Regions from separate parts of the Homo sapiens genome. Here regions 1, 2, 3 and 4 are each linked to region 5. The links come from fine-mapping of genetic effects on gene expression. A gene starts in region 5. Each other region holds a variant in brackets. All regions are shown on one strand. Distances are between the middles of the regions. Region 1 has its middle 28 kb from the start of MIR4633. Region 2 overlaps LOC105379168 (a long non-coding RNA gene). Region 3 overlaps LOC105379168 (a long non-coding RNA gene). Region 4 overlaps LOC105379168 (a long non-coding RNA gene). Region 5 holds the start of ISOC1 (isochorismatase domain containing 1).

What was found. PIP is the estimated chance that this variant, and not a neighbour inherited with it, causes the effect.
Region 1: its variant is fine-mapped to the expression of ISOC1 in monocytes after interferon gamma (Fairfax 2014, PIP 0.95).
Region 2: its variant is fine-mapped to the expression of ISOC1 in whole blood (TOPMed, PIP above 0.99).
Region 3: its variant is fine-mapped to the expression of ISOC1 in whole blood (INTERVAL, PIP 0.98).
Region 4: its variant is fine-mapped to the expression of ISOC1 in whole blood (INTERVAL, PIP above 0.99).

Annotation. Positions count from the first base shown.
Region 1 is chr5:129,122,654-129,129,159 of GRCh38, forward strand. No RefSeq gene overlaps it. Among named protein-coding and RNA genes, the nearest start is that of MIR4633, 28 kb to the left of the region's middle. The variant CT/C (reference allele first, on the strand shown) is at 3,468.
Region 2 is chr5:128,896,741-128,903,246 of GRCh38, forward strand. All of the region lies in intron 6 of LOC105379168 (a long non-coding RNA gene), which reads left to right. Among named protein-coding and RNA genes, the nearest start is that of SLC27A6, 65 kb to the right of the region's middle. The variant T/A (reference allele first, on the strand shown) is at 3,415.
Region 3 is chr5:128,887,943-128,894,448 of GRCh38, forward strand. All of the region lies in intron 6 of LOC105379168 (a long non-coding RNA gene), which reads left to right. Among named protein-coding and RNA genes, the nearest start is that of SLC27A6, 74 kb to the right of the region's middle. The variant C/A (reference allele first, on the strand shown) is at 3,210.
Region 4 is chr5:128,916,943-128,923,448 of GRCh38, forward strand. All of the region lies in intron 6 of LOC105379168 (a long non-coding RNA gene), which reads left to right. Among named protein-coding and RNA genes, the nearest start is that of SLC27A6, 45 kb to the right of the region's middle. The variant C/T (reference allele first, on the strand shown) is at 3,274.
Region 5 is chr5:129,090,658-129,097,163 of GRCh38, forward strand. It overlaps ISOC1 (isochorismatase domain containing 1), which reads left to right and starts at 4,092. Exons shown (of 5, transcript NM_016048.2): 1 at 4,092-4,418. The coding sequence starts at 4,110. LOC124901060 (a long non-coding RNA gene) reads right to left here and starts at 6,122. Exons shown (of 2, transcript XR_007058926.1): 1 at 5,892-6,122; 2 at 2,269-4,742. RefSeq lists a silencer at 3,710-4,489.

The DNA of each region.
Region 1 (6,506 bases), 32 kb after region 5:
CATGGTTTACATCAAACATTGCATACACACATGTATACAGTCATGACACCTAATGACAGGGATACATTCTGAGAAATGAATGATTAAATGATCTCATTCTTGGTCATTGTGCTAACATTATAGTGTGTACTTAACACAAAACAAGATAGTGTACCCTACTGCACACCTAGCCTGTGTTGTGGCTTCTAGGCAACAAACCTGTACAGCATATTATTGTACTGAATACTGTAGGCAAATATAACACAATGGCAAATATTTATATATCTAAACATATGTAAACATGGAAAAGGCACAGTAAAAATATGGTAAAAGATAAGGTACACCTGTATAGAGGAGCCCCATTATGATCTTATGGGACCATCGTCATATATGTGGTATATTTGTTGGCTGAAATGTCATTACGCAGTGCATGGCTGTATATATATATATACACATATACACATACCTTTTCAAATTTAAAAATGGTTGGGGTTGCTGAAGGGAGTTGGCAAAGTACATAAGAAAAATGGGAGATTTCCCTCTTTATGCTGGAGAAAGAGCCAGTGGTTATGTGATGCCCTGTATGATGGAAAGCATTGAAATGGCAGACCCGCTCTCATTCTTAATAACATTGACAGTTGGGGCAAATTTCTTATCTATAAGATAAAGAGATTAGACTCATCATATCTAAGATTCATTGCAGTTCTAAATTCTATGCTTCAGATTTTTTGACTTAATAAAATTCATTTCAACATTTGAGTGCCCATCATATTAGGAACTATTCACTAGATATTTACTATGTGCCATGTACCTAAATGCTTTATATCTGTTAACTCAATAATCCTTATAAACCTACGATCTAGCTAAAGAACAGAGTAAATAAGTAGCCCAAGATCATCCATTTGGTTGGAAGTGGAGAGGCTTAAATTTTAACTTGAGATTTTAGTCTAGAATTTAGTAACTGTGCCTGTAACAGTTGTATTATACTCTTTCCCATCCTGTGAGCCAGACACCTTGCCAGGCACTAGGGAAACCTCTGAGAAAGTCATGATGATGCAGGAAGCATAGGTGGCATATTGGGAGCTTTTTATTTCTAAGTTTCTTTTTGATATATGTAGACAACCATCTATAATCTCAGATATGCTATACATAACTTGTTTTTTTCAAGACTTCGATTTTACATTAAATTCTTTCTTTAGAGAGCTCATTAAGAAATATAGAAGTTCCACTGAATGCCAACTATCTTGCTCTTTTAAAATTTCCTTTAAGCTTTCATTAATTTGCTTTAGATTTGCATTCAAAAATGCAATGTTCTTAGAAATATTTTCGTCGACTCACTCAACCCATGTATTCAAATCTTTCAGAGATAAATAGCTTATTTTATCTACAGGGAATACTCATTGACTTTGAGAAATTACTTTCTGCATATTTTATTTTTGCTGAGAAAATACCTCCATACTTATCTAAAAGTAAAAATCTTTAACTCTTCTAAGTATCTGAGTATGTTAATTAGCATTAAGGTTAGTAAAATATAAATTCGTCAGTGACATAAATGATTGTGATGTAAATTAGTATGAGTTTATTAGAATTCAGAGAATTGGGAACATATATATGGGCCCCTGTTTTCATACTGACCAATCTGTTATGTCTTGAGTATTTATAATCAAATCAGCTGCTATGATAATGAGCTCTAAACATGAATTTTCAAGCCAAAATCAGACAGTTTCAGGCCTTGGATTTGATTTTACTCTTCTTACAAGCTGATCAATTAGCCTATTACTGTTTCATGGATGCTGGCACTAGACATGAGATTTCAGGATCAGAAACAGGACTGTGTTACCCATGGCACAGCAAGCAGCATCAACATTAGCATATTTGCATCGATTCCCCTTGCCCCCCAAGTCCCATGGGGGTGAGGGAGTACGTGCCAGACAGATGCCATTCATGCAGTGGATTTATACTGAGCTTTCGTAGCAAGCAGTAAGCAAGCCTGCTCTTTGTCCAAAAGGAGCTGTTACTTCATCTCTCCAGGTTATCAGCTACATAAACATAAATAAAAATGCCCTGGATAAAAGTGTTCAGGGCCTTGAAGCCTTGGCACACCAGCCAGATAGGTAAGACCACAAGAAGCCCAAGGGGAAGTGTCTCCCAACAGACAGATGCAGTGTACTGTGGCGGAAAGGGCAGAGTCTGTGACAGGGTTCTGGTTCTTGTAGCTCTTGCTAGCAGCCTTCCAGAGGTCTGTCTGAGATATCTCTAAGCATTCTCACAGAGAAAATAGAGTTGCATGAAATGACAAAAAATGTCTACCCTTTCATCTCAAGAATAAGTATTAATGTCATACTCTTCTGTAAACCTTCCTTTAAAATAAAACCTGCAGCTTGCTTGGGGCTAAAACTTGAGCCACAGAGAATTTTCACATAACCAAGTAATATAAATACAATATCGCCTACAAGTGTTAAATGGATTTTTGGAAGAGAAAATTCATCACTGTAATTGTTCAGTGAAGGATACCATTTATAATTTTAAGAACTAATATAGAAAATGTGAACACAATTGTAAGTGCATGACTAAGAAATGTTACCTCATTTTCTTTTCAATAAAAAACAAATCAAGTGACTGGACAAGATATGAGAATGTTGTGAGCATTTTAAAAATTATTTTAGAATGTTTATTTTTTAAATGTTAGAAATAATTTATTTTTCATGAATGAAAAGCTTATTCTCTGAAGCATATTTTATAGATTTTTATTTTGATATTGAAATAATTTCTGTGAAAATATGGATTTGCTAAATAGTACTATGTTTAGATCAGTTTGATTGGTCAACACTTCTCAAAATAGGTTCAAGATCTCCTCTTTACCTGTTGAAAACATTTACTCTCTTGAAAGATCCAATAAAGATATTTTAAAAAGATACTTGGGAAGGGAGGACGTTAAATGATTTCAGTGCACACTAAGTTGCAAAACCGCAAAGCATGGTTCTGGAAAAATCAAGCCTGCTATCATTATTGATAAAATTTGGATTCCACACCAATAAGCCTTATTTTGGCTAACTGGAATGTAGAAATATTTAATTCCAGGTGCATAGGGATTTATTTATATTAAAATTGTCCAACAGCACAAGATGCTGTGTCACCGATAGCCTGTAGAGGCAGAAGTTTTAAAGGACTTTAGTACACAAAAAAACATAATGCAGGCAAACTTTAGCTACCAAGAGTTCTCTAGAATGAGTATATGGATTCATTTGTTTATCCTTTCAGTACTGCATTATTGATTACCTACATAAGGGAAGCCCTCTGCTGGAGACAGTCTGGATAAGAGAGAGCTACTGTTTCTGAAGGAACTAAGTCTAATGAGAGAGATAAAATAAAGGCCACCTAGGGTGGTTAGTGCAAAGATGAGGAACTGGACACAATTACGGAAAGTCAGATGACAAATTCTTCTCAGATAGATTAGGGCTTTTCAGACCAGAGCCTTTTCACTTTAG[CT/C]TTTTTTTTTTTTTCTTTCGGTTTTGGTTTTGGTTCATCAGTTGAATGTGTAAAGTATTTCCTGGCCTTTTCTTTAACAGGATAGGAAATCTTCCTTCAAGTTGATCATCTCTTGAAGGAGCTTACAGTCTAATTATCTAAAAACAACTGTTCTACATACACGGTTTATGCAGCTCCTATGCACAGGTGAAGAGCATACAAGATGGGTAATAAAAGCAGCTTGGCATTGATCAAACACTTTACTATGAGCCAGGCACTTTGACTAGTGCTTGACTTATGTTATCTAATTTAATTCTCAGAACTTTTTCAGATAGTTCAGAACACAGAAGTTAAGTATCTAGAGTACCCGGCTAGGAGTTGCCATATGTGAACTGTTTTATGGGCTCTGCTACTAGCTGTGTGGCCTTAAGAACGACTGAGTATCAGCCATGAAGAAGGATGGCTTGTTAATACATGTCCCAGGGCAATGTCTAAAATTTCTGTTGAAGGGTAATGATTTATGTACAGTCACTCTTGATTAAAGATAACTATGCTGGGGAGTTTCTAGTCAGGCCAAGTGACCTGGAGTCAATGTGCAGTAGGCATTGCTTAACCCAGAGCTCTCAAACTCAATTGGCCACGGTGCAAGGCAGATAATCCAAACAAATGAAATGAGACAGGTGGGGCCTGGCACACTGGAAAGTAAGCATGTACATATTAAACAGGCAAGTTCTACTCAGCGCCACCTGGTTGCTGCCAAAGGAAAATGCAGACCCAGTGGTTACAGAGACTCCAAATCTTCTAAAGAAAATGACAATCCTGACTTTTAGATGTTGGTCTGTAGGCCATGAGACCAGTCTGAGGTGCAGCTCATCAACTGCAAGTGGTACTCTTCTCATTCTTCCTCATTCATAGTTTAGGAATCTTTGCTCCTTCCTTCCTACTTCCTTCCTTCCTTCCCTTCCTCCCTTCCTTCCTTCCTTGTCTCCCTGTGCTGCCCAGGCTGGAGTACAGTGGCGCGATCTCAGCTCACTGCAAGCTCCGCCTCCTGGGTTCACACCACTTTCCTGCCTCGGCCTCCGGAGCGGCTGGGACTACAGGCGCCCGCCACTACGCCCGGCAAATTTTTTGTATTTTTAGTAGAGACAGGGTTTCACCATGTTAGCCAGGATGGTCTTGATCTCCTGAAGTCGTGATCCGCCTGCCTCAGCCTCCCAAAGTGCTGGGATTACAGGCGTGAGCCAACGCACCTGGACTTTTTTTTTTTTTTTTTTTTTTTTTGAGACAGAGTCTTGCTCCATTGCCCAGGCTGGAGTACAGTGGTGCAATCTTGGCTCCTCCTTCTCGGGTTCAAGCAATTCTCGTGCCTCAGCTTCCCAAGTAGCTGGGATTACAGGCGTCTGCCAACATGGCCGGCTGATTTTTTTATTTTTAGTAGAAATGGGATTTCACCATGTTGGCCAGGCTGGTCTCAAACTCCTGACCTCAGGTGATCCACCCGCTTCAGCCTCCCAAAGTGCTGGGATTACAGGCATGAGGGACCACGTCTGACCACTATTTCAATCTATGTAAGCACTCTCAGGCAGTGGTCTCAAGATTTGCTACCTATTAGAATCAGCTGAAGAGCTTTTAAAAATCCAAAACCCAGGTCATGTTCCCTGCCAATGAAATCAGAATCTCTATAGGTAGGACCTAGATATTGTTGATCTATTTTTAAAACTCCCCAGGTGATTCCAGTGTGAAGTCAAGTTTGAAAAACAGCGCTCTCAGACCTTGCTACTCAGTGTGCACCTCAAAATGACACCAGCATCATCATGCCTGTGGCAAATGCAGAATCTTAAGCCCAATTTCAGTACTCCTGAGATGGGACCTGTAGTTAAACAAAATTCCCAGGTGGTTCCTATGAAGGTAAATGTTTAGGAAGCATTGCCTAATAATTATCAAGTGACTCATGGAACCTCGCTTTTAAGCCTTTGGACAGTGATTATTAACCATAGCTACATATTAAAATCACCAGAGAGTTTAAATGTACCATTACTGGGTCTAGCCAAGGAGATTCTGATTTAATTGATCTATGGTAAGTCCTGGATATTAATGTTTTTAAAAATCGTACCAACATGAGTCTAATCTGCCACCAGGGTTGAAAACAACTAATTGCCTTAGTTCAATTTTTTCCCATTTTGCAGTAACATGAACTTGTCATCACCCAATAAATCTTTTTACTATATAGTCATCTGATAATTCATATTAGAAAAAGTCACTGGGAGAGTTGTACCTGCTACCAAAGCTATGGTAGCTCTTATATCTGGCCGTGAATGTTTTCTGATTATTTATTCTAATTAAGTCTTCAGGTAGCACTCTTGAAGCTGGAGTTAAGGGGTTTTTCTGCCCTAGTTTTAAAATAGGTAGTCTTCCTCTCTGTGGTTTTTAAGGCTTCTGCACAACAAAATCATCTAGGGACTCTTTCAGAAAATAAGGATGACAGGATGTATCCACATATACAGTACTTTCACAGAGCCCAAGAGATCATTGTGATGGGGTGAAGGGCAAAATCACTGCTCCAGTCCCTTATGACGTAGGCCCATAATGAGCTATAGGAATGGCTAAATCAACCAGGTCTCTTACTTGAGGGAACTTAGAGACCACCAGGAATAAATTAAATATCAAATTACTCCCATGAACTCCAATTTCTTCATCTGTTAAAAAATAAAAATAAAAAGAGATAACACCTCTTGTGTTATTCTTTATAAGAAGAATTCATACAGTGTTTATAAAGTGCTTAGCACAGTGTCAACTCCTCAATACTTAAAGCCTAACTTAACAGGGCAGGTTTTTTTCCTGACAGAAGACATTCATTTTAAGTAGTATAAATCAAGGATCTTGGCTCTTCTGTCTTCAACTTCTACATGTAGCAGTTTTGTTAATTTATTTAATGTTGCATGCCCTTCAATCATAAAACAGAAAAGTGACTACCTTTTCCTGTGAAGATGGCATGGCTTACATGCAAGAATCAGAAGTAATCTCTAATAAGTCAAATGATCCTAGTTGTGATGAAAACT
Region 2 (6,506 bases), 190 kb before region 5:
GAGTTTTAGTCCTTGTGGCCTAGACTGCCTTTCAAGTTTATATACAGCACTCTAGCCTGCAGTGGTGAGGCTTTCTGGAACTCATGTTCTGACCGCTGGGATGGTAATTCCCCTCTGACAATGGCCAGTCTAAATGCTCCCTCTGTGGGCATGTATCAGCTATGTACAGCCCAGTTCTGTTTCCCCTATGACAGAGCAGCACTGAGTTCAATGTAAACAGTCTCACAATTGCTGTGCTCTCCCTCTCCAAGTACTCAGATTCTCTGTGCCATGCTGCCGCTGCTGGAGGATGGTGGGAGAGGTAGTATTGCTGATTCAAGGCTGTCTTTCCTGCCCTTTTCAGTGACTCTTTCAGTAATATGAAGTTAAAACCAGGGACCGTGAGTACCACCTGATTTTTGATTCTTATGAAGGTGCTTTTTGTGTGTAGATAGTTGTTACATTTGGTGTTCCTGTTGGGGTACACCCGGTGCAGCTTTCTATTTTGTCACCTTGCTCTGCCCCTTTCCATGTGTTATCATTTGTGCAGAGAAATATTGAGGGTTAAAAATTGAGAAGAAATTGTCATCTTTTGTCAGAAGCATTAGAATTATAATGTGAAAGGCTACATAGACTTTGGGGCAAAACTAAGAGATGGTAAAGGAAACGGGAAAATGTATCCATTTGAGAGAAAAAACTTAGAAGGCCATTTTTGAAAGCGAATAGTTAAGAGCTTGGATTAGAACGCTCAATTAAGGCACATTGTGAAAAGGGTATAAGATTTAATGCATTAAATACATAAAACTAGTAAGGATTGCATGTGTACAGAGAGTTAGATAAGTCAGTAATATTTATAGAAGATTGTAATTAGTTGAAAAAACTATAGAGCACCACTCTGCTTAATCCACTGTACCACAGTAGGGAGGGTCTGGAAGGGAAGAAATGCAGAAATAAACCAGAAAATATGGTGTTTTAAAAACACAATGATTTAGAGGAAGAAAGCTGGGCATGTAGTTAACTGCTATGGAAAGCAAATATATGCTCCAACAAATGTTTAAGTAAAGCTCTTAGGAAAGAATAAAAGAGATGAGATTAATTGTGGCTTAGGGAATCTGGGAGGAGAAAATATTTGAGCTAGATGTTGAAGGATGAAGAAGATTGCTGCAGGCTGTTTTAGTAAAGAAACATTCAAAAGGTCAGGTAAGTGGATTAGCAATGTCTTAGACATCAGAAAGGGAAAAAATGTGTTCAGGGACGAGAAAGTTGGGTACATAGAAAAATGAAGAGGAATGTTAGACTGGAAAAGAATATAAGAAAATGGACTTTTTCTGTGGCGTGAAGAAAGAAAAATAATCCGCCAATGATGGCAGGAGGTTATGTGATGAGCAAAGTAAAGTGTCTAAAAACAATAAATCAGAATAGAAATAAGTAAAGTAACCAAATAATTTATACCCCGAATTGGGATACTTTTGAGAACAAATTTGGGCACTAAAATCATCAAAATGTTATACATTTTGAAAATACTTATAGGATAGTAAATTGGTTTTATATTTTTGATATAACTATAAAAATTATCCTACTTAAAATTTATTTTCATAGATAGACTATGTTTATTTACATTAAAACAAAACTATTGATTAGCTGAAAATTTAGAATAACATAAGCAAAATAATTGATTCTGTGATACATATATTTTATATACTTTAATCAGTTTATAGCTATTTCTGCTTTTAATACCTTGTCATTGTTAATTTATAGAGAATAATTTTTCAATGCAATGTTCTTATTGATTTTTCATAAAATTATCTGCAATCTTCTTGAAAATTATATTTTATGATGCTGAATTTGCCTGATCTGTTTGTAGATTATGATAGTTTTACTTGATGAAGCATTCTGCCTATGAAAGCTGACATGCTTAATAAGTTCAGAGCAAATTCTACTAAATGGAAGACTTTCTCCATTTAAATTAGTTTTTATTTAAACTGTGAAATTTTTCAGCTTAATATTTTAGGAGTTATTTTGACTCAATTCAGAAAACCATCTTTGACAAATATTGCTCCAAAAATTCATTTAAAAATCCTATGTATGCTTCTTTTCAATATTTTGCCAGATTTGGCAAACTATGGCCCTTTTTAATTTTATTTTAATCCAGTATAGAATTTAAATTTATTAAAAATAGGAGCTACATTAAAGATTCTTCCTGCAGATTGAGATGTTGTAATTTTCAGTTGTAGAATGACAAACTTAAATCTTGTAATCTTGTACATTCTTTTTTTTTTTTTTTTTTTTTTGAGATGGAGTCTTGCTCTGTCACCAGGCTGGAGTGCAGTGGCATGATCTTGGCTCACTGCAACCTCAGCCTCCCGGGTTCAAGCGATTGTCCTGCCTCAGCCTCCCAAGTACCTGGGACTACAGGCATGTGCTACCACTCCAGGCTAATTTTTGTATATTTAGTAGAGATGGGGTTTCACCATGCTGGCCAGGATGGTCTGGATCACTTGACCTTGTGATCTGCCCGCCTCAGCCTCCCAAAGTGCTGGGATTACAGGCATGAGCCACTGTGCCTGGCCAATCTTGTACATTCTTTAAGCTCACATTATCTATTTTGTTCAGTTCCTCTTTAGCTTCTGTGAAGATGATTTTTATTGTTTCAATGTTTTCAGGTGATGCATTACGTCAATTCTTCAAACATTTTTGGTGCTCAATTTGTGGAACACTTTAAATGTTTCCAATTTATTTTAAAGAAAATTTCTTCTAAACTTTAAAGAATTAACTTACAGAAATATTCAATGACATCATAGAAATTTAAGGTTGATTTACAAGGTAGTTCTTCCAAGGCTCAAATATATCTAATCTACAATTAATATTCAATTAATAAAGTATCTGCAGCAAGGCTGAAATGATTTGTAAAATATTAAGCATTAGATTACTTGCAAAGATTTTTAGATTAGTTTATCCAATTATATGTGTAATAATATTTGTAATTTGTAAATTTGGACAATTAACATATTCCATTTCAGTCAGTAGAATTGTGAAACTTGTTTGAACTTGGTTTTGAATTATGTGTTCATCATGACCAATTCCAGCTGAATTGTCCTTTTATTTTTAAGATTATTATTTTATCATGAAGCTGTGTTTATTCTAAATTTCTCTTCATATTTTTATTACCAAATCATATTTTTATTTTTAAATTTTTCAACGAATTTTACAATAGCATCTACATTGTCAGCTGTTTTACTTTTGCGAAGTGAACTAAAAACTTCTCTTTGATTCCAATAATTAGATGAAAAATATTTGAATGATTATTGATATGAGTTTAACTGATTTCTATTTGAAGCACTTAATGATACTGATAAAGAAACAGCATTAATTAACTGCTTACAGTGTTTTTCTTTTGCTAACAGTGGATGCATTAAAACCTATTGCTTCATTTTC[T/A]TATGTTCACAAGAAACCTGGGAATTGAAACTGAATGTATTTAATTTAAAAAATTGTCTTTTGATGTACATGAAAGTTATGCTTCACAGGTTGATATGTAGACACATTTTCTATGACTGCACACACAAATTTTTTTTTCTGGCACAGTCTCAAAATAATAAATTTTTGAGGTAGATGGCTGATGCTTCTTTAGATGATCTGTGTCTTCTGGTTTTCATATATTAGTGATACAGTAGAGATCTCATGGTGGATAGGAAATGACAAACATTTTGTGCAAATTACTTTTTGTCATCTAGTTTCTTGGAAAATAAAAATTCAATATTTAATTATCATGAAATATTCACTTTCATCTTTAGCTCATTGCTGCTGAAAATTTGTTGTGAAATTTCACAAATTGAGAAACAATAAATAAATCAATATTGTAGAGTTATATGATGTAATAATGACAATAGCACTATATTAAGAGTACAAGCTACTTCCTCTCTTCATTTTATAAAACAACAGCTCTGGTTCTATTTCCTACACATTTGTCATATACTTAACCTATACATTCCTGTGTTTTACCCCAGATGCCCCTCACCACCATCTATTATGAGCATAGTTTTATGTGGGACTGGTGATTGGCAGATTTGTGTATTTTATAAACCAACATAGGACCAAGACAGTGTATAATGCTCCGCCCTCCACCACCACCCAGACCAAGAGGAGATGGCTTCCTCTCACCACTTATGTACCAGAAACATAACACCCTGCATGCCGACCTGGAAAGGGAAATGTTAGATTTTATATGGCTGAGGGTGCCAGGGAAAGAGAAGGGGTTATGTTACCTGTCTTTAAATTTAAATTAGGTTTCAGGTTGAAAGTATTCATTCCCCATAATTCTCACACTTTTCTAAATAAGACTAACAGAAACTACCAAACCCACCTTAGCTTATTTTAACACAAGTATTTAATAATATTTTGTAAAAAATGAAGAATCTGGAACAAATGTAAATCATGACAGGGTGTCTTAGGTAACTGGCAGAAACTGGTACAGTTCTGGGCAAACCGAGATGTAGAGTGTTCTGGTTATTGATTGCTAGGTATGAAACTATACCAAAAAGTAGTGGTTTACAACAACTCACTCATTATATCTCATGGTTTTGTGCGTTGGGAATTCAGGCAGTGCTCAGCTGAGAGGTTTTTCCACTGCATGTGGCATCCACTGTGGTCACGTGGTAGTATTCAGTTGGCAGCCACTCTGGTTTGGAGGGTCCACATGGATTCACTCTTATTCCTGTTTCCTGGGGCTACCTTTCTTCCTCCCCCTCCAACGTAGCCTCTGGGCTTCTCCACACATTCTCTTCCTCAGGTTAGTCAGATTTCTTACTGCCCTGGCCCAGGGCTCCCAGAGACTAAAGTGAAATGTGTCAATCCTTTTTAGGCTAGACCTAGAACTAGCTCAGTGTCGCGTCTGTAATATTCCTTGATCACAGCAGTCAAAGACTGGCCCAGATTCAAGGGGAAGGGACATTGTGCTCAGCTTCAATGGGAGAAGTGTCAAAGAATTTGCAGCCATCTTTTAAAAAACCACATATTGTCACAAGAGGCTCAGGTTAACATCAGAATATGGGTGCACAGCCGTTCACTTACTGTTAAACCAAATAGTATCAATTGTTTATCCTTACTCAAAGATGGCAACACTAATTATAAATGGTGAGTTTCATCGCAATATAAATATTTTACCTATTAATCAATAGCTGTTAGCTATTAATATAGCTACAAATAGTGATTAGCATCATCTATGTGCAAAACACTGGCACTGTACTAATTGCTATAGAGTAAAAATATGAACCAAAGCTCCTAGCTCCAGAGCCAAGAATTTAGTGAGAAGATAATCATGCTCAAACAAGCACAAAAACAAAGGAATGGTATTCACAGGGATGGTTACCATCCAGTCCTCATTCAAGAGTATGTGCAGGCATGCTTATGATCGTAGGAACACTGAAAATTAAAACAACTTAAGATGAATACATAAATATCACGGCCATATGACATTTTATATCCTTCATTGTTAATCTTCCAAAGCATTCAGCTGTGGTAATATTATTTAATAATCGACCACATAATTTTAGGACTAGTTAATGTTTTTATTTAAGAACCTTCTATTTATTCTTAAAATTAAAGTCTTCTATAACTTTAGAGGGATAAAGATATAATTTGTAAAATGTGGCATTAATAAAGTTGGACTTACAGAGCTGAAAGAACAAATGTATTGTGTTAAGAGATAAAGCCACTTGTCTGCCAGACACATGAAATCCTATAGAGACTTCTCACACAAGTCAGGCACACACACACAAGCATGCAAATGCACATACACACACAGAACATTGTAGGTGTTCTCATTGTGACTTTGGCTTATGATTATCCCTATATGCAAAAAAAAAAAAAGGCCGGCCTCAAAAAGAAAAAATGGAAAAAGCCAACGTTATCTGCTCTAAGAAAGAACTGGTCTGACTCTATGCAGCTAGATAGTAGCCCTACAGAAAGAAATCTCTAAAAAAGCATTAGCTTTAAATCTTTAAGGAATTATGAGATTTTTGTCCCTCCAAGAAATGCATCAAAAATTGGAAAACAGTGTAGAATAGGACCAGAAGGTAAAAGAAGAGAGACACTACTAAATGGATTCTATCTCAGGAAAGTTAAGGTTGAAAGCCAGAATCTCAAATGGCAAAAGGTAACCCGGCAATTCATTCTAGAGTTTCCAATAATAATAAAACCATCTTAGGCCCCTCCTAAAAAAATTGTCAAGGGTCATCTATGCCGATTAACTTGGAAGAATACTAAGTGAAGGTGTTACAATGTGGTTCTCACTTCACATTTTCAGTGTATTTATCTTTTACTTGACTCAAAGCAGATTACAGCAGAAATATCACTTGACAGAGATTGCAAAAATAGCCCATTTTTTTCTTTCTCTTTCTTTCTGAGGGTTGAAATATTTCTAGCTAGTGCCGCAAAATTGTTCCCACTACTCTGCTTGGCATGAGGAAAGAGATAGACATGGGATAAATTATGGGCTTATCAGTAACCAAAAATGGAGTTGGTATTACAAA
Region 3 (6,506 bases), 200 kb before region 5:
TCAAAATCAAATTATGGTCTCATGCAAACCTTATTCCAAGAAAGAAGGAAAATAAGACATTTTCAACTAAAGAAATCATGATCAAAGTAGTATTTTTAAAATAGCAAAGCATATTCTTTGGGAGAAAGAATATAATATCAGATGGAAATTTAGAGTAATATGAAAGATTGACTAGTGATAAGATAATTAATAAAGCAGAAGATATGGAGAAATTACTCAGAATGCAAAGTTGTGAGAAAAAGAGATGAAGAATATAAGAGTAGCTAAGTAGTGGATAGAATGAACATGTCTAATATATGTTTAACTGGAGTCCCAAAGAAAGTAATTGAGAAGAAGAGATAATATTTAAAGGGATAGAGAATCTTACAGAACTGGTGGAAAATGAAGATTCAGGAGCAAATCATAGGAAAACTGCAAAGTAAAGATCTTCAGACAGGATATAAAGACAGATTGTAAATAAGACTGAGAATTTAAACAATATTTGGGGACACTAGAAAGTAGTGAATTTCAACTTGAGGGATGTAAAAGAAATATAACCGTTGACATGAACTGTATTCCCAGGTACATTTTTATTCAACAATGAAGTTGAAATGCATCCATTTTCAGGCAACCAAAAATTTATATTTAATTACCAGTAGACCTTAACTAAAGAAATTTTGAAAGAAAAATGGATGTCTGAGATGTAGGATGAAATAATGTGCAAATAAATGGTTGAACTTGTAGGTAAACTTAAATTAACATTAATTGTTTTTAAAAAATGATAGCAATGCCTAATACTGTGCTTAAAGAAACAACAAAAAAATACTAAAATAATGGTATGAAAGGCTGAAAGGGGTTGGTGATTGTAATTTAATATGCCCAAGAAGCCCTTAGTCATTTAGGAATAACAGAGATATTAAATGTTATTAGATTTTAGGTAATGCATGCACACATAACTTTTAAGTCAATAAAAAATAGAACTAGAATGTATAACTTCCAAAGCAGTAGACATATAAAACTGAAAAAGTACTAAGTATGACTTAAAAAATTATATTGTACATCAAGTTATAATGAACATGAAGCTACAAATAAAGCCAGTAATATTTTCCTCATTCATACTCAAAATCTGATCTCTATTTTAATACTTCTTACTACATAGAGTTTTATAGCATATAATTTTCTTATTTGCTTTTTGAATTTTATGATGTCAATTTTTAAATATACAACAAAGCTATTATAACAAATTAATGTCAAGCAATTTTTTATTGTTTGTGTTAACTAAACAAATTCTCACATCTTTTTTGGTGAGTTGCATTTGATTAAATATGATTATATTTGTGTCTTCTGAATGCTGCCATCTATATAACATCATTATACTAAAATATCCATAGCTTTACCATTCTCATCTATTTGTGCCAAATAGTATATGTGTTTGTTTCTCTTGGTATTCAATTTATAAAGAAATCATGTGTTGTTATTCTAAAATTTTTAGTTGTTGTGGATATATAGTAGGTGTACATATTTATAGGATGCTTTGATACATGCATGCAACGCATAATAACCACATGAGGTAAAATGGCATAACCATCACCTCAAGCACCCATCCTCTGAATTTCAAACAATCCAATTATACTTTTCTAGTGATTTTTAAATGTACAATTAAAGTATTTTTACTATAGTCACTCTGTTGTTCTAGCAAACACCAGGTCTTATTTATTTTTCTGAACAATTTTTTGTGCCCATCAATCATCTCTACTTCCTGCCCACCATCCCCACTACCCTTCTCAGCCTCTGGTAACTGTCCTTCTATTCTTTATTTCCATGAGTTCAATTGTTCTAATTTTTAGGTCCCACAGGTAAGTGAAAATGTATGATGTTTGTCTTTCCATGCCTGGCTTACTTCACTTAACATAATGACCTCCAGTTCCATCCATGTAATTGCAAATGACAGGATCTCATTCTTGTTTATGGCTGAATAGTATTCTGTTGTGTATATGTACCACATTTTCTTTATTTGTTCATTTGTTGATAGACAATTAGGTTGCTTCAAGTCTTGTCTATTGTGAATAGTGCTGCAATAAACACAGGACTGCAGATATCTCTTCAATATGCTGATTTCCTTTTTGGGGTGTATGTACCTAGGAGTGGTATTGCTTAATCATATGTTAGCACAACTTTTAGTTTTTTGAAGAACCTCCAAACTGTTCTCTGTAGCAGTTGTACTAATTTACATTCCCATCAACAATGTAGGATTCCCTTTTCTCCACATCCTCACCAGCTTTTGTTATTGCTTGTCTTTTGGATAAAAGCTATTTTACTAGGGTGAGATAACCCATAATTTTGATTTGCCTTTCTCTGATATCAGTGATATTGAGACCTATGCATATACCTGCTTGCCATTTCTATGTCTTTTTTTGAGAAATGTCTACTCAGATCTTTTGTTCATTTTTAATCAGATTATGAAATTTCTTTTCTATTGAATTGTTTGAGATCCTTAGATATTCTAGTTATTAATCCTTTGTCAGATGGGTGGTGCAAATATTTTCTCCACTTCTGTGGGTTGTTTCTTCATTTTGTTGATTGTCTACTTTGCTATGCAGAAGCTTATTAACTTGATGTGATCCATTTGTCCATTTTTGCTTTGGTTGAGTGCACCTGTGGGGTATTATTGAAGAAGTCATTGTCCACTCCAATGTCCTGGAGAGTTTCCCCAATGTGTTTTTGTTGTTGTTTCATAGTTTGAGGTCTTATATTTAAGTCTTTAATCCATTTTGAATTGATTTTTGTATAAAGCAAGCAATACAGATCAAGTTTCATTCTTCTGCACATGGATATCTTTTTCCATTTATTGAAGATATTGTCCTTTCTCCCAGTGAGTGTTCTTGGAAACTTTGTTGAAAATGAGTTCACTGTAGGTGTGTGGATTTGTTTCTGGGTTCTTTATTATGTTCCATTAGTCTATGTGTCTGTTTTTATGCCAGTACTATGCTGTTTGGTTACTATAGCTCTGCAGTGTAATTTGAAGTCAGGTTATGTGATTCCTCCAGTTTTGTTCTTTTTGCTAAGAATAGCTTTAGCTGTTTTGGGTCTTTTGTGATTCAATATAAATTTTAGGATTATTTTCTTTATTTCTCTTAAGAATGACATTGGTATTTTGATAGAGATTACATTAAATCTGTAGACTGCTTTGGGTAGTATGGACGTTTTAACAATATTGATTCTTCCAATCC[C/A]TGAACTTGGAATATCTTTCTATTTTTTTGTGTGTCGTCTTCAGTTTCCTTCATCAATGTTTTAAAGTTTTCATTAGAGAGATCTGTCACTTTTTTGGTTAATTTCTAGGTATTTAATTTTATTTGTAGCTATCATAAATGGGATTACTTTCTTGATTTCTTTTTCAGATTGTTCACTGTTTTCATATAGAAATGCTACGGATTTTTGTATGTTGATTTTGTATCCTGCAATTTAACTGAATTGGTTTATCAGTTTTAATAATTTTTTGGTGGAGTCTTTACATTTTTCCAAATAAAAGATCATATCATCTGCAAAGAAGGATAATTTGATTTCCTCCTTTCCAATATAGATGCCTATTATATCTTTCTCTTGTCTGATTGCTCTAGCTAGGTCTTCCAATACTATGTTGAATAACAGTGGTAACAGTGGGCATCCTTGTCATGTTCCAGATCTTAAAGGAAAGGCTTTCAGTTTTTCCCCAATTCAGTATGATACTAGCTGTGAGTGTGTCACATATGGCTTCTATTTTGTTGAAGTATGGTCCTTCTATACCCAGCTTTTTGTGGGTTTTTATCATAAAAAGATGTTGAATTTTATCAAATGCTTTCTCAGCATCAATTGAAATGATCATATGGTTTTTATCCTTCATAGGTTATTGATATATAATGTTGACATAAAATATGATATATTGCATAAATTTCATAGATTGATTTGCATATGTTGAACCATCCTTGCATCCCTGGGATAAATCCCACTTGGTCATGATGAATGATATTTTCAACGTGGGGTTGAATTCAGTTTGCTAGTATTTTAATGAGGATTTTCTCATATCACTGATATTGACATGTAGTTTTCTTTTTTGTATTTATTTGTTTGGTTTTGTATTGGTGTAATTTCAGTCTTGCAGAATGAATTCAGAAGTATTCTCTCCTCCTCTATTTTTCAGAATCGTTTGAGCAGTATTGATTTTAGATCTCCTTTAAATGTTTGGTAGAATTCAGCAGTGAAGCCATTGGGTCTTGGGTTTTTTCTTTGCTGGAAGACTTACTTACAGCTTCAATCTCATAACTTGTTATTGGTCTGTTCAGGTTTTGGATTTATTTATGGTTCAGTCTTGGTAGGTTGTATGTATCTAGGAATTCATCCATTTCCTCTGGATTTTCCAATTTATTGGGATATAGTTGCTCATAGTAGCCACTAATGATCCTTTGAATTTATGTGTTATGAGTTGTAATGTCTTCTTTCTCATCTCTGATTTATTTGTTTAGGGCCTCTCTCCATTTTTCTTATTAATATTCTGGCTAACGGTTTGTTCATTTTATTTAACTTTTCAAAAAACCAACTTTTTGTTTCATTGATCTTTTGTGTTGTTTTCTTCATGTAAATTTCATTTATTTCTGCTCTGATCTTCATTATTTCTTTTCTTCTAATTTGGGGTTTGGTTTGCCCTTGTTTTTCTAGTTCGTTTTTTTTCTGAAGTCTTGCTCTGTCTCCCAGGCCAGAGTGCAGTGGCACAATCTTGGCTCACTGCAACTTCCAGCTCCTGGGTACAAGCAATTCTCCTGCCTCAGCCCACCGAGCAGCTGGGATTACAGGTGCACGCCACCACACCCAGATACTTGTTGTGTCTTTAGTAGGGTTAGGGTTTTGTCATGTTGCCCCGGCTGCTCTTGAACTCATGGGCTCCAGTGATCCACCTGCCTCGGCTTCCCAAAGTGCTGGGATTACACGCGTGAGCCACCACGCCTGGCCTTCTGGTTCTTTAAGATGCATCGCTAGGTTGTTTATTTGAAGTTTTTCCTCTTTTTTGATGTAGGCACTTATTCTCTTGTCTGATTGCTCTAGCTAGGTCTTAAACTATATACTTCCCTCTTATTATTGCTTTCACTGTATCCCATAGGTTTTGGTATGTTATGTTTTCATTATCATTTGTTTAAAAAAATTTTTAAATTTCCTTTTTAATGTCTTCATTGACTCACTGGTCATTCAGGAGCATATTGTTAAATTTCCAAGTATTTGTATAGTTTCCAAAATTCCTCTAGTTATTGATTACTAGTTTTATGCCATTGTGGTCAAAGAAGATGTTTGATATTATTTCAATTTTTTGAAAGTTTTAAGACTTGTTTTGTGACTTAACATATGATCTATCCTTGAAAATGATTCATGTGCTGAGAAAAAGAATGTATATTCTGCAGCCATTGGATGAAATTTTCTGTAAATATTTATCAGGTCCATTTGGCCTATAGTGCATATTAAGTCTGAAATTGCTTTGTTGATTTTCTGTCTGGAAGAACGGTCCAATTCTGAAAGTGGAGTGTTAAGGTGTCCAGCTCTTATTGTATTGGGGTCTGTCTCTTTAACTCTAATAATAATTGCTTTATATATCTGGGTGCTACAGTGTTGGGTGAATATGTATTTATAATTGTTATATCCTCTTGTTGAATTGACTCTTTTATCATTATATAGTGACCTTCTTTGTCTCTTCTTACAGTTTTTATTTTGAAATCTATTTTTTTTCTCATATAAGTATAGCTACTTCTGCTGTTTTTTGGTTTCCATTGGTATGGAATATCTGTTTCCATCCCTTTATTTTCAGCCTGTATGTGTCTTTACAGGTAAAACGTATTTCTTGTAGGCAACGGAATCAATGGGTCTTGTTTTTCTATCAATCCAGCCATTCTATGTCTTCTGACGAGAGTTTAGTCCATTTACATTAAATGCTATTATTGATAAGTTACTTGTTTTTTGGTTGTTTTGTGGTCTTCTCTTTCTTCCCTTTTTTTCCTTCCTGTCTTCCTTTTAATGAAGGTGATTTTCTCTGGTGGTATGATTTAACTTCTTTCTTTTTATTTTTTGTGTATCCATTGTATGTTTTTTGGTTTGAGGTTACCATGAGACTTGCAAATACTATCTCATAGCCCATTATTTTAATATGGTAACAACTTAACACTTTGCATAAATAAACAAAAAAACAAACAAAAAGAAAGCTAACAGAAACTCTACACTTTAACTTTGTCTCCCTACTTTTTACTGTTGTGTTGTTTTTATTTATATCTTATTGTACAACTTATGTCCTGAAAAGTTGTTGGAGTTATTATTTTTTATTGATTCATCTTGTGTTCTTTCTACATAAAATAAGAGTTGTTAACACAACAGAATTACAGTGTTATAATATTCTGGCTTTTTTCTGTGTACTTACTATCATGAGTTTTGTACCTTCACATGATTTTTATTGCTCATTAATGTCATTTTCTTTCTGACTTAAGTACTCCCTTTAACATTTCTTATAGGACAGG
Region 4 (6,506 bases), 170 kb before region 5:
CAGGGATCCAGAATTCTAACACCGATCTCCTTTCACAAAAGCATTGTTTAGGAGTTTGCTTTTAGCAGCCTTTTCATTTCCAAGAATAGATTGCTTGTAATAGTTTAGAAATAGGTTGCTTGTAATCACTTGGGATGTAAAAAGGCAAAAAATTTTACCCCTGAGGGATACAAAGGGAAGAAACATGATAATTGTCCTCATTATTTATTCCATGACCTAGACACTTACATACATACTGACACTTCGGAGATTTATTTTTTTCATTATTCTTAAAGGAATCATCATCAGTGTTTACTGATAGACAATATTCCTCGTTTAAATTGTGCTAAAATGTAGGATTACAATCAATCCCAGGTTATTTAATAAGGTAGTTATAGACAGAAAACCAGTTGTTTCACATATTGCAAATCTTCAGTGCAACTTCACATAATCCATTAGGGATAGACTTACCATAGTGGAAGCATCTTCTTTAGAAAGTGAGCCATCTCTAAGCATGCAGCTTTAACAGGGCATCTGGCATGGAGGTAGAAAGCATTCTGTAAACAAAATAAAGGGTTATAGAAATTCTCAATGTCCTTTTACGCTATGATTCTCTTATTCATGAGACTATCCTCTGGGGGAAAATGATGACTGGAACTTGGAGCACTCAGGAATATTTGCCAAACATTGCAGAACATTTCAAGGGGTCAAGATTTATTTAGCTGAAGCCCTAAATGAATATATTGATTATGAATAAGTGTGTGTGTGTGTGTGTGTGTGTGTGTGTGTGTGTGTGTGTTTATGGTTTGGAAAGTGCATTAGGGCTACTGTAACATTTTCACAAACTTGGTGGTTTAAAACCATAGAAATTTATTATCTTACAGTCCTGATGGCCAGAGTCCAAAATCAAGATGCTAGAAGGACCTCACTCCCCACAGAGACTCTAGGGAAGAGTCCTTTTCATGACTTGACTAGTGGGCACATCACTCTAATTTATTGCATCTCACCTTGCTTCTTCTGTGCATCTGTCTTCTCCTCTCTGTGTCTCTAATAAAGACACTTGTCAATGGATTTAGATTCCTCCTAGATAATCCAGGATGATCTCCTCATCTCAAAATCCTTAATTTAATTATGTTGCAAAGACTTGCTTTTCCAAATATAGTAACAGGATTGGGGAATGGGCATATTGTTTTGGTGGTCACCATGCAGCCTACCACAAAGGAAGATATTTCACTTTTATTTTTGCTTTGTTTTCACCTATCTGGCATTATTAGTGTTTTAACTGTATTTTTTAGCTTTGTGTTTATGTCATTATTGCCACAGTAATAATATAGTAATGTTTATTTCACCAAACAATGGTGTACTGGAAAGAAAGGCATTTTAGACAGAATTTGGCCTTGATATGCCATTCATAATCATCTAGAAATGGTACATTCTTCTTGACATTGAATATCAAGAAGTTGAATGGACTACCCAACTAATTGAAGACATAAATATGATTTGGTAAAATTATGATTATTTGGAAAACACTGAAGGAAGTCTGAATTAAGCTTACGGATCTTCTCAGGTAGGGCTCCGGCCGCCTGTCTACATGAAAGCACATTAGCATTGACCTCAGAGGACACAGTGATGTCTCCCAGCTCCAGTGGCATTTGTGTAGATAAAGACAAATATATTTTCCTCTGTGGATCTACTAACCTCAAATAATTTAATTTAACCAAACTAGTTGAGACATTTCTTCCAAGTCTTAAGCTTTTCCAGTGCTAGGCTGACTTGGTGATCACTCTTTCCTTCTGAAAATGTTACATATGACATGACACTAGTGAGTCCAAAATACTAGAAGCTCAGTTTGTGTTGAGGGCTTGATAAAAACAGTAAGATATACTTCTATTTTAAGTATATTCAACTTATATTTAAAATATACTTCATTAGGTTGTTTATAAAATAGAGCCTCAAATATTGTACTGCCTTTTTAAACATGTTTTTGGGGTCTTAAAATTAGATTTACAATGATTCTATTGAACAAAAAATATGAATCTTTCTCAGGATAAATTTTTACTTAGCCCGTGTGTAGCCGGCTATGGTAAACGTAATACTTTGTTTCTTGTACTTACTTTCCTGTGGAGAATTCTGTCCCTTGGTGATAATGGAGGACAATTTAAGGATTGTCTCAGAATATCATAATTTTTGTATGTTTCAAAGTTGCTCTTAAACTTTGAAATGAGGATCTTAGAGATGAGGTCAAATGGCCTTAAGACAGGATGTGTCATTCTTCAACACTATCTCTGTAGCCAATGCAGGAAAACTGACCAAAATCTACTCTTTCACAATTAGCAAGGAGGCATGTTTGCAGCTATTATAATAGAATTAGATATTGCATGTGTGTTGTAAAAAGCCTTTGCTTAGAACAATTGTTCAAACATCTATTTGACTGGCCAAAATGGAAATACAGCATAATTCTATTTTTATGGCCCTCTATTTTAACAAAATGCCAGTTGCATAGCAATGGAACTGTAGTATCCCCCAGTTTCAAATATGCTTAGCATCAGCTGGAAAGAGCTTTTCTCTTTCCACTTCCACTTCACTTGTATTTCCTTCTCAAGGTTGGTTTTTCTAATTTGAGCTCCCTTTTAACAAACAACTAGAAATATTCTCATATCTGGCTCATCCTTCTGCTTTTACCTTTTTCCCTGCTTGTGAGGCGTATTTATTTTCCTATAACTAGTCAGATTTGGGTTCATGGTATAAATAAAAGTGAGTTTTTCTGAACAAAAATGTCAGCTTTTATATTTTCATATACAAGAAGTATTGTGGCAGATGACGCAATAGATGACACCAAATTAAATAATTTTTGTGTATGTGCTATCATGTATAATTTAGAAATTACTTTGGATATGTAGGAATAGTCAGACTTATGGGAAAAAAAATTTTTTTTGAGATCAGTTCTGTGTAGAGCATCATTCTGTCCAATCTGTGTAGAGCATCATCTTGCCTAAATCTATAATTTGGTAGTCAGAGATGAAATAAAGATATCCTAGGTATGGAATCATCATATAGAGCTGTCTCTCAGTATAAGCAGGGGATTGGTTCTAGGACCCCCACACATACCAAAATTCACACATACTCAAGTCCTGCAGCCAGCCCCGTGAAATCCATCTATGGAAAAAAATCACACCCTCTATATAAGGCAGGTTTTGCATCCTGCAAAGAATGCATTTTCATCTGAGCGCATGGTTGAAAAAAATCCAGGTATAAAGTGGACCAGCACAGTTCAAACCCATGTTGTTCAAGTGT[C/T]AACTGTCTTACAAATGTTTTATTTAAATGTCTAAAAGTTCTAAAAGCATATGTCAATTTAGCACAGTTTTATGACTCTTAGAAACAAATTCATGAGTCATTCAAATCCATTTAGCAGAGAAAATTGAAGAAATAAGTATTAATTCTTCATATTTTTATGTATTCTCTTAGATTTCTAACTTAAAATGACAAACTTTCAAGGGCAATTGTTTGAGAGTAACAGCCATTTCCCATGACTAATTCGATTACCATTAAATCCATGTTTATTTCCAATGTTCTTAGCTGTGCTATCCACAAACATGTGAATCCATTAGTCATACAATGTGGTCATAAACCAGGAAAGAGACAGTGGAATACAATGAAACAAGCACAGACTTAGGAGTCAGTCTGGATATGGGTCCATATCCAGGCTTGGTAACTTTCTAGTTGTGTAAACTTGGGCAAATTATTGTAATTATTCTGAAAAACACCTAACTAGAATAAATAACATAAAGGTGAGCTGATATTATGTAAATAAAGTTAAAAGAGAAAATGACTCAGTGTCAAAGCCCTGGCATGCTGCCTGGAATTCAATAGATAATGATTTTCATTAGAAGCAGAAAACAGAGAATTTGGATAGAGCAGTTTATTTTCTGTCTGCATCAGAATCTCAACTTGGGCACTATTGATATTTGGGGCAGAATAATTCTTTGTTGTGGGGCACTGTCCTGTGTATTGTAGCATGCTTAGCAACATGCCTGGTCTCTACCCACTAGATGCTAGTAGTGTACCTCCCTCTCAATTACTCTTCCCAAGCCCTGCCACTCTACCACTTGGCACCTTAATTGTGACAATCAAGAATGTGTGCAGGGATTGCCAAATATGCGTCAGGGCAAAATCTCCCTAATTGAGAACCACTGGTCTGCCTGAAGAGTGAGGTCCATTGTCCAGTAGCTCAGGCCCAGCCTTGTGTCTCTGTCCTTCAATTTCACCTTTGGCTAGTTACACAGTTAATGGCAGAACTCCCCCAATGTATAGGGATATGGTCATTGTGTATTTTGGGTACTCATTCTAGATTTTACCAGAGGAAAATTTCTTTATCACCTAAGTTCTTTCTAAATGGGAATAAAATATCAGGAACACGAGACATGAAATGAGATGTATTACTTAATTAATTTGTGCTCAGTAAATTCCATGTGAATTTGCAAAGAAGTAAGTAACCATTTTAGGCAAATAATTCGTACATAGCAATTACTCTTGTTTAATTCAGAATGCCTCAAGACATTCAATTTTTAAAATTCAAGGAAAAGCAAAAAAAGTCAAATGTGTATTTCAGGGTAGCAAAACTCTTCCGTGTACATTAATAATCCATTTCTTAAGTGATCCTAATACACATTGTTTGGAATGATTGAAAAAATTGTTAATATACTCGCTTTTACTTACAAATGATTATTTTCATTTTACTATGTTTGTTTTTGAGGAAAAACCTTAAAAATTACTATAAACAAACTATTAACAGTTTTAAGGAATAAACACTATCAAGCCTGTTTCTGTAAATTATAAAATGAAAACAAGCTTTTAAATGTGCTACTTAGTAATTTAGTGTCAGATATATATACTGGAGCAGATTATATTTATAATTATTTTGTCTTTATAAAAATGGAAAAATGACTTAAAAGTGGGAGGTGGAGGAAAATTTGTGATGTGATCATGAAGAAGGTCAAAATATTCTCAGTTCTATGTATATTTGTAAACCAGTTCAATACAGTACCTGGATTAATTATTTTATTATTTATACTGAGCTTTGACTCCAAATAATTTAAATAAGTCTATATAAAATATAGTAAGATTATTCAAATGTTCATAGAAAAAGTAGAAAGAAAAAATACAACCCCAGAAACATAAAATTAAGTCAGTAAAAGCCTAGTTAAAAATGCATTCATAAAATGTTATTTGTTTTCTACAGCTGGATAAGATATTTTGCAAGAAATGAGCAGAACAAAAATAAAATTAGGAAAACAATTCCATTTATAATAGCACCAAAAAGAACAAAATTCTTACAAATAAATTTTTAAAAGCAATATATAGTTTATACTCTAAAAACTACAGAATATTGTGGAAAGAAATTACAATATACCTAAATAAATGATAAGACTTTTTATGTTAATGGATTGGAAGATAACATTGTTAAGATGACAGTATTCTCCAAATTGAGATACAGATTTAATTCAGTTCCTACCAATGTCCTGGATGACTTCTTTGCCAAAATTGACAATGTGATCCTAAATTTAATTTGGAAATGCAGATGATCTAGAATGGCCCAAACAACCTTGAAAGAGAATGGAGCTGAAAGACTCACACTTCCTGATTTTAAAATTTACTTCAAATCTATAGTAATCAAAACAGTATGGTATTAGTCTAAAAATAGACATATAGATCAATGAAATAGTCCAGAAATAAACCCTCACATTTACAATAAATTAATTTTTAAAAGGGTGTCATGACCATCCAATGGGTAGAGAATAGTGTTTTCAACAAATGGTGCTAGGTCAACTGGATATTCACATTAAAAAATTGAGTTGGATACTTAGCTTACAACACACACACACAAATTAACACAAAATTGATCAGAGACCTAAATATAAGAGCTTAAACTATAAAACTCTTAGAAAACATGTATATCAAACTCTTAAAAACTTAGGTATAAATCTTTGTTATACCTATGGATGTGGGAATGGTTTCTTAGAGATGACACCAAAGATACAAGAAATGAAGAAAAAATAGGTATCATCAAAATCAAACTATTTCATACTCAAATTACACCATCAGGAAAGTGGAAAGAACACCCATAGAATGACAGAAAAAATGTTCAAAGCATGTATCTGAAAAGGGATTTGTATCTAGACTATATAAAGAACAATTACAACTCCATAATTAAGAAGACAAATAATCCAGTTTAAACAAGGGCAAATGTTCCAAATAGACATTTCTTCAAAGAATATATACAAACATCCTTTTGTTTAATGCTGGTATTTATCAGGGAAATGCAAATTGAAATCCATGAGATACCACTTCACACCTCCTAGAATGACTATAGTCAAAGAAACCAAAAATAAAAATTTTTAGGGAGGATTTGGAGAAAGTGGAGCCCTCATACACTGATGGTGGGAATATAAAATTTGAAAAACAGTTAGGAAAAGCCTAGAGCTTCTTCAAAACGTTAAACATAGAGTTACCACATGATCTAGCAATTC
Region 5 (6,506 bases):
AAGTCATTTCTAAAGACCAGATCAATTAAAAGAATCGAAGGACTCATAATTTTCAGTGTCATCAACTTTATCCCATGTGTCACGGTCCCATTTCTCAACCAGAGTCCTGACCTTGGCATAGAAAATATGCATTTTTTAAGAGTTTAACCTTCTTTGGAGCTCTGCTACCTTCAGTCCTAGTCTTGGTCCTCAGCTTTCTCTCTCTTCTTATTGCAGGAACTGAGAGACTCAATGCTGCCAAAAAGTTCTTCCAGCCTTCACACTTAGCTTTTAGTTGCCAACTATCTTTTTTTTGGTCTTTTTCTAGAGCATCAATCAAACTTTGAAACTGTCATTCAATTCCTTTATTCTTATAATTAGTATTTCCTCCATATTTTTCAAATTCTTAATTACAGTGAAGGCATTCCTTTCCAGTAGTATATGATTCTAGTTCATCTTGCTGGAAGTTTAAAAAAACTGCCAGGGGCTATCTGTGCTCCACAGATATTAGTGGTTAGGTATTCATTATCTGCCCAACAGTGGGTGACCCAGCTCCAAAATCCATCCACATTGGCCTCCTTTCATCTTTCCTAGCAACAAATGTCACAGGTTGATTTCCCTGGAAAGCAGACTCTGAGATAAAAATCAGCACACTGAAGACTTAATAGACAGTGCTATTTTGGCTATTATTTCTTCCAATATTCTTTCTGTTCCATTCTTGTCTCATCTCTCCCTCTTGGACTCCAACTACATATTAGATCATTTGATATTGCCCTCCAGGTTACTAAAACTGTCATCATACTTTTTTCAATCTCTTCCTGTTCTTCACATTGGATAATTTCTAGTACTCTGCATGCAATTTCACTAATCATTTCTTCTGGAACCTATAATCTGAAGTTTAGATTACCCAGTGAGCATTTCACTCCAGACATTGCACTTTTAGCTTGAAAAGTGACATTTGGCTATGTTTTCAGTCATCTCCATCTCCCTGCTGGTATTCCCTATCTGCTCAGTCTTATGGCTACCCTTTCTTTTAAGACCTTGAATATACTTGTAACAACTTCTTTAAAGTTCTTTTTCTCTTAATCCTAACATCTAGATTGTCTTGAGGTCTATTTTTATATACTGGAGGATTCTGAACACAGCAGTGACACGCTCTAAATTTATGTTTTTGAAAAAGTGCCACTCTAATAGCCGTGTGGTAAATGGAGTATAAAAGTCTATGTAAATGAGGTAAATGGATAAATAGGGATACAAAAGTCAAATATTGGGCACAACTTATGATGAGTTACAGTTAGATGGAAGACGACAGTGGTTTTGTCTTAGGTGGTGGCACTGGTGTGAATGAGAGGAATTTGGTTCTGACCACCAGGTCTTGCTGATAGACTGGACAAGGACAGAAAGAGGAGTAAATTAAAGGATAAACCCCTGGTTATTGTACTCAGTTACTAAAACGGGGTTGCCATTTGCCTAGATATCAACAGGGGAGAGAAAATATTCGAGGACAGAAGAAAACTAAGAGTTCTGTTAGTACATTTAAATGTGAGGTATCTATTGAATATCCAAGTGGAGATGTCGAATAGGCACTTGTGTATGAGTATGGAGTGCAGAGTGAGGGCCTGGATGTTAAAAATTTGGAAGTCAAAGGTATATGGGTGATATTTAAAGCCACAGTCTTAGGATAATAGATGTGAGGACTGAGCTCTGGTATACTTGTATTTATAGAGGTTTGGGGAATGAGAGGAACATAGGAAACGAGCTTGAAGTGAGGTGGAAGGAGAAATAAGAGAGAGTGGTATCCCAAAGACAAAGTGAATATGGTTCAAAATAAAGGGAGTAATTGGTTTGTCAAATGTTGCTGTTAACTGGGAAAGGTGAGAAATAAGCCTTTGTTTTATCAGTCTATTGAGATTTTGGGGTTTGTTTCTGTAGCATATTAATGTATTAATCAATACTGTGTAATATACCTTCTTGATTTTCTTGGAATTTAGATTCTAAAAGTAAGCATTTAACATTAACTAATAAAGCTACTGAGAGTCCTATATGAGAAAATTTTGGGCATTTGGTCCATAATATGATCTTGTCAATTAGAACAGTTATTTTCTACTTGTCATTTGAATATTCATTTATGGGGTCTTACTCACTTTTTCTGGTAACATTTATAAAAATTATCTTAATAATTGTATTTCTGAGGATAATAATTTATCACTGAAATGTGCATTCACCTCCCTTTTGCAGCCCAGTGATGCAGAGGTTGATACACAGTTGATATTCAATAAATGGTAAATGTGCCCATCAAATATCTATTTTATTAATGTTATTTAACATGCTATTACCACAATGATTGCACCATTAAACTAGGTTGTCAAGGACCAATCTCAGACAGCACAATATATATGGAAGTTGATTTCCTTACTGAAGGGTCAGAAACCTAATTTAAAAACATGAAAGGGAAATGAAGTATGTTGACTCACGGCCATGAGGGCCACGGCAGAAGACTGTGTAGATGCCAAGGTCCTCGCTGAGGATGTCTGAAGTCTAGGCCAATCTCTAATCTCCAACCTACTCTGTGTTAGGAGGCTTTACAGGGTGGAAGGAACACTTTTATTAGTCCACCCAAAATAGGTAGGTACCTTTTGGTAATCAGGTCTTGAGGGGGTACACTTATTAGCACAAATCAGCATATCTGCATATAGAAGACCTTGCAATGGAGTGGTATCCGGAAAAAAATATCATTTTGGGTCTGACGGGTTCAGACAACACTTTTAAATGGGATCTCTCAAAGTGTGATGAGAACCAGAAAAAAATGGCTATTTCTAGTAGCTTCGGTACAATTGAGCAAGAAACACCAAAGGATGGTCTTTTCATAACTTTAAAGCAGTGTGGTTCTCAAGTAGGGGGTATATTTGCCCTCTGGGGAATATTTGGCAATGTCTGGAAACATTTTTGATTGCCATAACTAGAGGGAGGAGCGGTCACTAGGCATCTAGCGGGAGTAGAAGCCGGTGATGCTGCTAAATATCCTGCAAATGCACAAGATGCCCCATCCCCAAGAAAGAGAAATGTCCATTCCAGAAGTCAACAGTGTCAGTTGGGAAACCCTGCTTTAAAGGTTATTTTCTTAGAAGAGGACAGCTTTAATACCTAAAATCTAATTTTATGTTTAGGCCCATGCCTATCTTCGCAGGACTCAATTCCAAGGAAATTCTGTTCATAATGCATGCTTTCTAATTCCAGTTAATTATAGCGCCTTACAGTGTGCAGAAGGCAGAGGATTGTTTTATTTGAAAGTGATCCCTTTTACTTACTTAAAAACAGATATCCTTAGTTTCAATATAAAGTTCAGATTTTTGCTTTTAATAGTATTTATATTCCCAAATCCAAGTCCTCCCAGAAATAGGTTGAGATGAAGGGAGGCCAGATATCAAATCCATTCCTAGAGATATTGTGTTCTGTGGGACCGAAAAAAGACAAAACTTGAACCTTGACTGGCCCTCTAAGGATTAAATTCTGCTGCTCTTCTTAGGGTATCTATCGGACTGTCCCTTTGGTTGTAAGATACCACTGCCATCTCGAGGAGGACTGCATGCTTCTGCACAGAGCCAACAGGTAACTCGTCCTGGCGGCTCTGTGTACCCAACCACAACCCTAGACTGCCAAGAACACTGCTCATTCGAAGGCGAGCGAAGCCGCGAAGAGGGCCAGCGTTAGGGGAAGGGTGGTACAAACCCTTGTGTGAGCTGCAGCACCGGGGCAAGAACAACGGGCAGCCCAGGCGGGTCTTGGGTCTGCGAGACCACTAGGCGTTCTGCCGGCAGTCAGAACCGCGGCAGAAAGGGCGCGAGCGGGGAACTGCGGGAACGCAGCGGCCCGGGAAGCTGGAGGGGGCGGACCCGGCCGGCGAGCGCAGGCGCTCCCTGGCTCACGCGCGCACCCCGGCCCCACCACCCACCCTTACGCCGCGGCCCGCCCTCCGGGGCGGGTAAGAGAGCGCGCGAGCAGCGGTCGTCAGGACACGCCCCTTCGCCTCCGCGAGCTGGCGGGCGGGCTGGCATCGCCGGGAGGCGGGGCCGCGGCAGCCGGCTGGGTGCGACTGGGCGGCCTCGGAGCTCGCAGACGCTCGGGGGAACATGGCGGCTGCGGAGCCGGCGGTCCTTGCGCTCCCCAACAGCGGCGCCGGGGGCGCGGGGGCGCCGTCGGGCACAGTCCCGGTGCTCTTCTGTTTCTCAGTCTTCGCGCGACCCTCGTCGGTGCCACACGGGGCGGGCTACGAGCTGCTCATCCAGAAGTTCCTCAGCCTGTACGGCGACCAGATCGACATGCACCGCAAATTCGTGGTGCAGCTGTTCGCCGAGGAGTGGGGCCAGTACGTGGACTTGCCCAAGGGCTTCGCGGTGAGCGAGCGCTGCAAGGTGCGCCTCGTGCCGTTGCAGATCCAGGTGGGTCCTGCGGGAGGCCGCGCGCTTCCCTGTTCCCGAGTCGTCCCCGTCCCCGTCCCTGTCCCCGCCTTCGCCGCGCTCCTCAGGTGCCCCGAGCCGCCCGGGACCCGGGCCCTGCGCGAGTGGCTGAGTCCGAAGGGCTGCGCGTCTTTCGCAAGTTCCGGGGCCGGCTGGGGAATGCCCCTGTCCAAAGGTGATGGTCACCAGCTGTCCCCGGCGGGGGCGTGGGCCTCGTAGCTGGTTTCAGCGCCCGCGAACGCCCCCACGTGTGTGGTCCTCGGTCGCCCGCATCCGCTTTTTATGCCAGGATCAGGTCCCAGCCTCCTGCGTAACCAAAGGGCTGTGCTGTAGTAGCTGTTTTTATTTTGGGGTGATGGGTGATGCAGAATGGGGGGAAATGAGATTGTGGGGAGTATTGGTCTTAGGGTTTGTTCCTAGAGTTGTGTTAACCACTTGCGGAAACGCAAACTTTGGGAGTCAAACCCATTCCCCCCCGCCTTCCCAGGCTCTCAGGTCCTTGGGCTTAAGAGTTCCCTAACCTTAAGCAAATAACCATTTGCTTAGCCTCCTCTTAGTAAAGTGTCTACTGACTTGATTACGTTTTGTCGTCTGCATTGAAAAAGTCATTTGACTCCATGATTGTAATTCCTTCTTGAATACAAATACCCAACTTAAGCTAGACCTTGAGTTCCTGGGCCTGCTGGCTGGGAAAGTTGTTCTACCTGAGGACTACTTAACAGCATTTATTTTAAGCTGTGCTCTCATGCTAGGCGGGTTAATCTTCCGCCCTCTTTAGGATCAGATTGTTCACTGGCGAATTTATATTTTGGAAAGGAAAGAATATAAGGTATAATTTAGGTAGTACACTGTCGATATCATTTCTTTAGCTGAGAAACTGATAAGTCATTTTTTCAGAAGACCAAACTGAAATGTGGGATTCGGGGATAAAAGGTATTTTAATATTTAAGTGTCATTTTCTTTCTTTTTTGTTTTTAGTTTTTATGGGCACATAATAGTTGTACATATTTATAGGAGACGTGATATTTTGATTCAAGCATACAGTGTAGTGATCAAATCAGGGTAATTGGAATATCCATTACCTGAAACATTTATCATTTATTTCTTTGTTCCAAATTCATTTTTGTAGTTATTTTGAAATATACAATAAATTATTGTTAACTATAGTCACGCTATTGTGCTACTGAACACTAGAGCTTATTCCTATTATCTGTGTTTTTTGTACCCATTAACAGTGCCATTTTCTGAGGATTATTCCCTAGTTTTTTTCCGCTGTAGTTGGCAGCTGAATTGATGATGTTTCCTGTCACCCCAACACCTGTGCCAGAAGTGTCCAAAGCAGGTACTTTAGCTTCGATAAAGTTCCTGCATTCAGAGGACAAAGTCAGAGACTGCACTCTCTGCCAGTGGAGAACCTGGAACTGGATACAGTGATCTGATACCCCAGAATCTTACCTGCTGCTCAGATAGGGAATTGCAGTTCTTAGGTGCTTAAGACTCCTCATTTTTATGTCTTCAAGCGTTTTCGTGTCTGACACCTCTCTGCAGCCTTCCTTGTCAGTCCTTTTACGTTACTGCTGCCAGAATACTCAGATGTTGGATGCACCTTTGAGAAGTCCATTTATAAAGGCTAGAATCCAAATACTAACTGCGGAGGTCTGGGACTAAGGATGCAGACTTCTTTATGAAGCATTTCCTGTTACGGCTTGGAGGGAGGCTGGGCTCTTATCTAAGATAATGCTATTCTAAACTAGGCCCCAGCTCTGTAAGAGTCCCCGCCTTCCAAGATAGGATTTTTATATTTGAAAATTTCAGGGCCTTGGTCTGGCAACTCTTAAAAACATTCTAGAAATTAATGAAATGTATGTACCTGAAAACGCTTGTACATTCTCAAAAGGCGTTATATAATTCTGGTCACCTGTAGCTTTTGCAGTGTTTTGCTTGGTATAGGAGATTATGTATAGTTCACTTTTTTTTGGTGAGGTTTAAAATAACAATAGCATTACTCTACTCCCTCTTCAGAAGAAATTTTTCCGCCAACTAGTCTAATAATTCTTAAGCATTAGTTAT